Homo sapiens: one gene and its partner. The gene in region 2 interacts genetically with the main gene of each other region. Each region holds a gene or a part of one and is shown on either strand. Other genes may lie near its edges.

What was found. Genes that interact genetically often act in the same process or in processes that back each other up.
Region 1: changes in CT47A6 (region 2) and FLT3 together harm fitness less than expected from each alone (positive genetic interaction), as found in Homo sapiens cells (one study listed by BioGRID).

Annotation. Positions count from the first base shown.
Region 1 is NC_000013.11:28,052,077-28,055,576, reverse strand, and holds part of FLT3 (receptor-type tyrosine-protein kinase FLT3 precursor), read left to right. Parts: intron 1-2,653; exon of another isoform or gene 2,654-2,745; intron 2,746-2,902; coding exon 2,903-3,032; intron 3,033-3,500. UniProt on the Homo sapiens protein: Tyrosine-protein kinase that acts as a cell-surface receptor for the cytokine FLT3LG and regulates differentiation, proliferation and survival of hematopoietic progenitor cells and of dendritic cells.
Region 2 is NC_000023.11:120,957,918-120,963,870, forward strand, and holds CT47A6 (cancer/testis antigen 47A), read right to left. Parts: upstream 3,571-5,953; 5' UTR 3,312-3,570; coding exon 2,570-3,311; intron 1,683-2,569; coding exon 1,558-1,682; 3' UTR 1,527-1,557; intron 389-1,526; 3' UTR 248-388; downstream 1-247.

The DNA.
Region 1 (3,500 bases), on a different chromosome or scaffold from region 2:
TGAAAAAGAGGAAAGGGTTTAGTCAACCACAAGCTCAGTATTAACCACCAGCGTGGCATGGTTGCCAAAAAAGTAAATTTGAACCTTGGCAGTGTTCATGAAAATATAACGTCTAAATTAAGGAAATTAATAGAAGCTTATTCATTTCAGTTCTACTTTTTTAAAGATGAATACTGACAAAATGAGCAACCAGGATAGTGGAAAACTTGGAATTCTTTAAATTAGGAGCAGTTGAAGGAATTGGGAATGTGTAGTATATAGAAGGAAATGTTTTGAGGAGACGATAAGATTGATTGCAGTGTAATGCAGAGGAAATTCTTTTGGGATTTGAGTCAGGAAACCTGAGCTAACTAGTTAAAGTACCTTGTATGGTAATTATCTCCCTTGATCTCGGTTTCTGATTTTAAATATTTGAAAGATTTTCATATGGAATCAAAGCTAGACTTTAAAAAAGTTGCTCTAGAGGATATGATAAGAACCAATTGTTAGAAATTACAGGGAGAAAAAGTAAAAATCACCTCAAGATGGGAAAAAATACTTGCAGTTCACAATCAACAAAGGATTAATAGTCATAATATGTAAAGTCAATAAGATAAACAATCTATATAAGTCAATAAGTCAATAAGAAAAACGAACAAAATGAAAACCTAGTAGAGCAATGAACAAAGGACATGAGTAGGCATTTCATTTTTGGAACATGAAACCTAAATGGTCAAGAAACATGTTAAAAGATAAACTTAGGCACTTTAAAGTTGTAAAGAGTATATTTGAGCAGAAAGCAATTCATGAATCAGGCAGTACCAGATGGCAAGCAGGTGGGCTCCAGTGAGGAGATTCAAGGGTAAGACTTCTTTCTATAATGTGTTCCCGGAAGCAAGACAAAGAAAAAATTTGATTGTTTAAAGAAGGACAGTCCCTGGATTGGTCAGTTTGCAGTTCCTCATTGATTAAGCTAAGTTGCATTTTGCTGCTCATATTGAATTGGGTTTGTTTTTTGCTTTTTGTTGTTGTTGTTTTTGTAGAGACGGGGTTTTGGCATGTTACCTAGGCTGGTCTCGAACTCCTGGGCTCAAGCGATCCTCCCGCCTCACCCTCCCTAAGTGCTGGGATTACAGGCGTGAGCCACCTTGCCCGGCCTTTATTCTTTTCCTTTTTTTTTTTTTGAGTTGTGTTGTGATTTGTTTACCTAGGAACTCAAGCTGTTAGAGTTGTCTCAGCCTAATGGACTCCCAATTAATTATTTTAACACATGTTAAATTAATAATGGAGAAATTAAATTAAGACCACAATGAAATACCATTTTATACTTGCTGGATTGCTGAAAATTAAGAAGTCTTGGTAAGTCTATAAAGCAATAGGTGCTCTCATATCCTGCTGTGTAACATAAATTAGTATAACCACTTTGGAAAACAAATGATCATTATGTGTAAGGCTGAATGTGCTCATACCATGTAGACCAGCAGTTCCACTCTTAAGAATGTTATTAAGGAAACTGTTATACACATGCCTCAGTACAAATGTGTAGAATGTTCAGAGCACATGGTTGATCATACAAAAAACTGTGGCCGGGTGTGGTGGCTCATACCTGTAATCCAAGCACTTTGGGAGGCCAAGGCAGGAAGATCACTTGAGCCTGGGAGGTTGAGGCTGTAGTGAGCTGAGATTGCACCACTGCACTCCAGCCTGGGTGACAGAGACCCTGTCTCACACACACACACGGAAGGAAACAACCCAAATGTCTACTGCAAGAAAATGAAAAAATAATGATATATTTACCAATAGAATATTATGTAGCAGTAAAAAAAAAAATGAATAAAGTATAGCTACATGTAAAACCATGGATGAATTTTAAAAACATAAGGTTGGATGAAAAAATGAAGTTGTAGAAGTTACATATTGATTGATAACACTATTTTGAAGCTCAAGAATGAAAAAATCAATATATTGTTTAGTGCCACATATTTATTTGGTATAACTACTTTGAAGAGTCCTCGAATAATCAACAAAATTCAGGATAAAGGATACGTGCAGTTGAGAGGTGGGGAGAAGCATAAAAGTAGATCAAAAGGTATTTATTAATATTCTAGTTATTAGGTGGATAGTGGCTCCGTGGGTATTTGTTGTTGTTATGCTTTGAAATTTACACTCCATATATTCTTTCATATATATATATATATATCAAACAGTACATAGTATTTTCAAACAAAATTTATTGTAAGGAGAGAGGCTGGAATTCAGTATAGGGAAACTTTCTTTAAAAAAAAAAAAGTTTGTCAGAAATTAGAATGACCTGCCCTGGGAGGTCATGAACTCCAGTCTCTAGAAGAGTCAAAGTAGAAGTAGAAAGTTTATGTTAGAAATAGCTGGGAGTGAAGGATGGTGTGTGTGTGTGTGTGTGTGTGATCCAGGGTGAGTGGGAGGCTCAACTAAACCTCTTAAGTTCTGTTGCAATTCCAACTCCACCCTACCATGTTTCTTCTGTCTTTCTAAATCTTAGTATATTTCTGCCTAGTTGCAGATCAAATTATAGGAAGAAAGTTGAGGTCTAAACTATGTGTTAAACAAGGGTTTAAGCCATATGTTATTGCTAATTTCCTTTTTCCTGTGCCTATCAATATTTGTATTTTCACATGGCTTCACTCGACTACTTTAGTTAGCTGTGGATTTGTGAAATACCCAAAGAAATTGGCCAAGAGGAGAAATGTTCAAGTTGACACTGCAGCCACAGCTAAATTTAATATAATGGTTGGTTTGCTTTTGATGCCTTTATTATGAAAAAAGAAAAAAATATGTATACGTAATGGTTGAGAACTTTTCATAATGACATAGAATCCTTTTCTGAGGGGCTGCTAAGAGAATTATTTTTAAAATAGTAAAATGTTAATAACTTATGATGCTTTAGATACCCTGCTTTACACATTAAGAAGACCTTACTTTAGAAAAATGGAAAACCAGGACGCCCTGGTCTGCATATCTGAGAGCGTTCCAGAGCCGATCGTGGAATGGGTGCTTTGCGATTCACAGGGGGAAAGGTATGACACATCCATGGTAGCTGCTATTCTCATAATTTCCTTTTGGCCTTTTTCTAATGTAGTTGACATCAAGCTGTATGTAAAATTTAATTTATGCTCATTTAAACAGGAAACTTTGGCTTCTTAAAGTTAAAAAATGGCCAGTATAGGGCCGGGTGAAGTGGCTCACGCCTGTAATCCCAGCATTTCGGGAGGCCAAGGTGGACAGATCACTTGAGGTCAGGAGTTTGAGACCAGCCTGGCCAACATGGTGAAACCCCATCTCTACTAAAAATACAAAAAATTAACTGGGTGTGGTGGCAGGCACCTAAAATACCAGCTACTCTGGAGGCTGAGGCAGGAGAATCTCTTGAACCTGGGAGGCAAAGGTTGTGGTGAGCCAAGATCACGCCATTGCACTCCAGCCTGGGCAACAAGAGCGAAACTCCGTCTCAAAAAATAAATAAATAAAATTAAAAAAATAAAATA
Region 2 (5,953 bases):
CAGACTAGCCGTATTACAAGTGCTCAGTAGTCACAACACACAGCTCTAAAGATGAGCCCCATCTCTCTCTTTTCAAAAATTGTTTTAAACTTGTCATTTTACTTGATTTTTGGCTGCAGTGAAAGAATTTCAAAGAGTCTTACCAAATGGCGGAAAGTAATATCTTTCAATGAAGGTATGGTGGGCCAAAACAAAGACGTAAAGGAGAGATTTGAGTTAAGATTACTTATTGAAAAATCTTCCCACGTTTCAGTTTATTCATTTAAAACAAACTTTTATTTTTTAACTTGAACACTGTCACATACATCCATGAAAGTTAGATGTCACTGGATATCACTTTTGATGTAACGAACTTTGGAATGATATGTGTTACAATTCCCACAGGCATCTGGAGAAAAAGATAAAAACAATGAACAACAGAGTCTTCTTTCTTTTCCTCCCGACTGTGGGATGAAATGAGAGATGATAAACAATAGTACAACATTAACCAGCACCAGTGACTTTCTAAATAGAAGAAAATGGCCAGCTCTGTGTATATCTGCAACATTTGTGTGCTATATCTTAAACAAGTAGAGAAGCCCATCTTTTCCTTTTGTAACTCACGAGCTTGGATATCAGGGTGCTTGTGGAACTGAAGGTTTCAGTCAAATGATCACACCAACCTTGTCTGCCTAGCACTAGAAAAGCTTGTTGCTTTTGTTTTTACATGAGGGGCCATTCTGGGATTTAAATAAATCTCTCAAGCTTCAACAGCCTGTGCTGGTTCCACAAATAATACTCCCTTACCCTCCCAGACCCTTGGTTTCCGTATCTACCATGTGGGAAAGAAGCCGTTACGAAATATACGGCTGTGAAAATGCAAAATAAATAAATAAATAAGAAAGAAAGAAAAATGTTAACCATTTAAATACACTCAAAGATGGATATACCTTAAGACTTCATTACCAATTCAGTGATAAACACACATTCTTTTCATCTGACTGTGACATAAAATACCAAAATATATAGCCAAATAAATATCTAGGTATTAATCATTCATTGTGGTCCTACTTGAAATTCTTAGCTTTTTGCTATTTTTAAGTAGTCACTTTGTAAAAGGCATTGAGTTGTCTCCTAGTTACTACGGGAGCCTGCATTTCTGTGGTCAAGTAACGAAGGCCCAACTAATGCGTGGCCCAGCCAAGTTAGCGGCTGTGTCTGGCAACTGTTTTCTACACAAATATTGGTCCTGGTAGTAGGTCTGATACATCTGCCACTTGTTAGTAGTCTTGCAGCTAGAGGACAAAAGACCTCAACATGAACAAATGAGTAGCCAAGAAGTATATTTCAGAACACACTGCAGTTCATATTACTAGGTACATGAATATTCTCGTAACATTTTAAGTAAGTTAAATTGAATTTTTAAACTAATTTTAAACTTTTTCTTACTTAACTTACTGAGAATTTTTGTTGTTGTTCAATAAAACTGTCTGCAACAGGTAAATGCCAGGAATAGTTGAGTGATTCTCAAAGCTATACACAGATACCTGGATTTTCTTGGCTTCACCTCTGCTGCGTCTAGGTCCCTTTGGAGTTCTTCACCTTGTTTTCTGCATCCTTCTCTTTTTCTTGTTCTTTCTCTTCCTCGCCTGCAGCATCTTGGGCCTCTTCATCCCACTTTTCGGGCTGAGATTTAGTGACTTCTTTAGGGAAGAATAATACACACATGGGGACCAGACATTCACAGAAAATATAGCCCAATTTATAACTAGCAGCGGCATTCAGCTACTCCACCCTCAGGAGAAGCAGGATAGAGTTAAGTAAGAAAGGAATAGCTGGGCACCTTCCTACTGGTTTTCACAACAGTTCCATGGCCCTCACGTTGCTGCTGCTTGATCATTTCCACAGGGACACTGTATTTCCCTTTTTTCCAGTAAATCTCCCACCCAAAGCGGCTGATTATTTCTAGTTCTTTGGAGAAGAAGAGATCTGAATCATCGGGTCCGATCTCATTCTACGGTGTTTTGGTCAGAACTTTGTTGGGAAAATATTTGTTTACCTCAAAAGACAAATTCTATGGTGAAGCTCATTGGTTCCTCACCCCCCTGAATGCTTCATTTTTACCAAGTGCTCCTGCATCACTTCATCATTTGGGGGATCAACTTTCTACGAATCTTTACACTTTGAAAAGCCATGAACTAAAAGGGATGCCTGCCATTTGCCTGTTCTTTTCCTTGGCGCATCCCTTCTGTTTCCTGCGGAGCTCCCTCCTGAACCCCTATCTACCCGGCCATTCATCTGCGGGCTCACAAATGGCACCGATGATCTCAGATCTCCTATCAAATATAGGTTGGTAGAGGGCGACAAGTTTTCTCAAAACCACAGATGTCGTTAGAGAATTGGGCTTCGACTCATTGGGACACATTCTGCCTTAAGTTTCAGGAGGGCCCCGACTCCTGCTTCACCACCCGAGGCCCCGACCCCCCTTCACCACCCGCTTCACCAGCTATGCCCGCACCGCGGCCCTGCCTAGAACCCTGGGACACACGGGTCCCCGCCTCCCCGCTGCTGCCGCTAGCCCGTTCCTTACCCTCTGGGGCCGTGGCCTCCTGTGCGGTCGGTTCTTCTGTGGCTGGTTCCTCTGCGTCTGGTTCCTCTGTGGCCTCCTCTGAGAGCTTCTCCTCTGCGGCCTCCTCCGCGGGCTCCCTGGCCATCTCGGCCAGGTCAGCTGGCACTGCAGGCTCTGGGACCGATGCGGCCTCCTGGATCAGGCCCAGGCCCTCGCCCGCCCGGGCTGCGGCCCCTGCACCCAGCCTCTGGGGCAGCAGCAGCGGGGGGAGGTTGCCCCAGAGGTTGCGCGCAGCAGCGTGTGGCCCCACCATCAGGCGGCTGAGTTGACGGTTCTCTATGAGGATGTGGTCGTTGTGAGAGAGGCGGTGGAGAAGGGAGTGGACCATGTCCAGGAGCACGAAGTGAATGCCCGACGCCGGGTAGCGACGGGCGACCACCGCCAAGTCGAAGTTGGCCGCCTCGTTCCCCTCTTCCTCCTCCTCTTCCTCCGTCGCGGGCCCGATATCTGAGTCCTCCTCGGCGCTCCCGCCCCGGGGGACTGCGGCCAGGCCTGCCGCCTGCTCACCCTCCTCCTCCCCGAGGCCTTCCACGGGCCCTGCGACTCCGACCACCTCGGCCGCAGGCACCACGTCGCTGCTGTCGGGGCCGGAGTCGCCGCCCTCCTGGTTACCAGCTCCGGCCGCCTCGGCCTGTGCTCCCTCCTGGCTTACCGGGGCCTCCTGGTCCCCTTGGGTCGGGTGTCGGTCCCCTGTGGCAGACATGACACCAGCAGCGCCTCAACTGGGGTGGCGAGCGGGCTGAGGCGACCACGGTGAAGACGGTGACCACTGAGGTGGCTACGGCCGAGGGGAGGCGAGGAGCTGGCCGCTGAGGGAATAAGAGTCTCTCTCTTTATTGAGGGAATAAGAGTCTGTCTCAGACGACACCCTAAGATGGGAAGGGCAGGGAGCGAATCCTAGAAACCTCCCACCAAGGCTGGCCTGAGAGGACTTAGACAAGTTGGGAAAGATTCTGGTTGGCAGGCGAAAGGGGGCGGGACCGGAAGGGTCAACGAGGGGCTCTCAGTGAGCCCTAAGCTCATTTGCTGAAAACTTCAGATTGACATGTTCTATGTCCAATGAATGATCAAGGCCCTTAAGCTCTAGAACTGAGAATCCAGAATCCAGAGCTTTTTCTTTTCTTTTCATAGTGTTGCTCTGTTGCCCAGGCTGGAGTGCAGTGGCAAGATCTCGGCTCACTGCAATCCCCGCCTCCTGGGTTCCAGTGATTCTCCTGCCTCAGCCTCCTGAGTAGCTGGGACTACAGGTACATGCCACCACGCCTGGCTAGGTTTTGTATTTTTAGTAGAGACAGGGTTTCACCATGTTGGCCAGGATGGTCTCGATCTCCTGACCTTGTGATCCACCTGCCTCAGCCTCCCAAAGTGCTTGGATTACAGGCATGAGCCACCGTGCCAGGCCGAGCTCTACCTTTTCTATGAGGCCTTAGTGTCCAAGGCTACCCCTTTAGGTCCACACAAGTCCTGCCCTTTTAATTTTATGATTATTAGCAACACTATAGTAGTCCCATGTGGAGGCACCCTGGAGCATGGGAACTGCAAGGCGGTCACAGAGTTCACTTATTTCCACCTAGTAATGGCTCATGCCAGTAGAGATAGTGTCATAAAAATGTTATATAGTTCATAGCTAAGCAGTAGTGAAAACCTCCCAAGAGACATAAGAATTTCACTGAGTTAACGTAGTTAAAGCTACTTAGAAAAGAATGTGCAGAGTTGAAATGGATGCAGTCATCACTGAGTGTTGAGGTGGTAAATGACAGACACTGGAAGGTGTTTAATGAATCCTGCCAAATTCACTTCAAACCTCCAAATAATGGGGAAAAAAAGAGATACTTTTTTTAAAAGGACCAGGTCATCTCATAAGAGCTAAGCATCAAAAACACCAAAAGTGCCTGGGGGTGGTGGCTCACGCCTGTAATCCAGCACTTTGGGAGGCCGCACTTTGGGAGGCCGAGGCAGGCAGATCACCTGAGGTCAGTAGTTCGAGACCAGCATGACCAATATGGTAAAACCCTGTCTGTACTAAAAATACAAAAAATTAGCTGGACATGGTGGTGCGCGCCTGTAGTCCCAGCTACTCGGAAGGGTGAGGCAGGAAATTTGCTGGAGCCTGGGAGGTGGAGGTTGCAGTGAGCCAAGATGGCCCCACTGCACTCCAGCCTGGGTGACAGAGCGAGACTCAGTTTCAAAAAAAAAAAAAAAAAATTAGTAATATATGCAATATTATTTTCACACTTGCATCACATATTAAATCAGACTAGCCGTATTACAAGTGCTCAGTAGTCACAACACACAGCTCTAAAGATGAGCCCCATCTCTCTCTTTTCAAAAATTGTTTTAAACTTGTCATTTTACTTGATTTTTGGCTGCAGTGAAAGAATTTCAAAGAGTCTTACCAAATGGCGGAAAGTAATATCTTTCAATGAAGGTATGGTGGGCCAAAACAAAGACGTAAAGGAGAGATTTGAGTTAAGATTACTTATTGAAAAATCTTCCCACGTTTCAGTTTATTCATTTAAAACAAACTTTTATTTTTTAACTTGAACACTGTCACATACATCCATGAAAGTTAGATGTCACTGGATATCACTTTTGATGTAACGAACTTTGGAATGATATGTGTTACAATTCCCACAGGCATCTGGAGAAAAAGATAAAAACAATGAACAACAGAGTCTTCTTTCTTTTCCTCCCGACTGTGGGATGAAATGAGAGATGATAAACAATAGTACAACATTAACCAGCACCAGTGACTTTCTAAATAGAAGAAAATGGCCAGCTCTGTGTATATCTGCAACATTTGTGTGCTATATCTTAAACAAGTAGAGAAGCCCATCTTTTCCTTTTGTAACTCACGAGCTTGGATATCAGGGTGCTTGTGGAACTGAAGGTTTCAGTCAAATGATCACACCAACCTTGTCTGCCTAGCACTAGAAAAGCTTGTTGCTTTTGTTTTTACATGAGGGGCCATTCTGGGATTTAAATAAATCTCTCAAGCTTCAACAGCCTGTGCTGGTTCCACAAATAATACTCCCTTACCCTCCCAGACCCTTGGTTTCCGTATCTACCATGTGGGAAAGAAGCCGTTACGAAATATACGGCTGTGAAAATGCAAAATAAATAAATAAATAAGAAAGAAAGAAAAATGTTAACCATTTAAATACACTCAAAGATGGATATACCTTAAGACTTCATTACCAATTCAGTGATAAACACACATTCTTTTCATCTGACTGTGACATAAAATACCAAAATATATAGCCAAATAAATATCTAGGTATTAATCATTCATTGTGGTCCTACTTGAAATTCTTAGCTTTTTGCTATTTTTAAGTAGTCACTTTG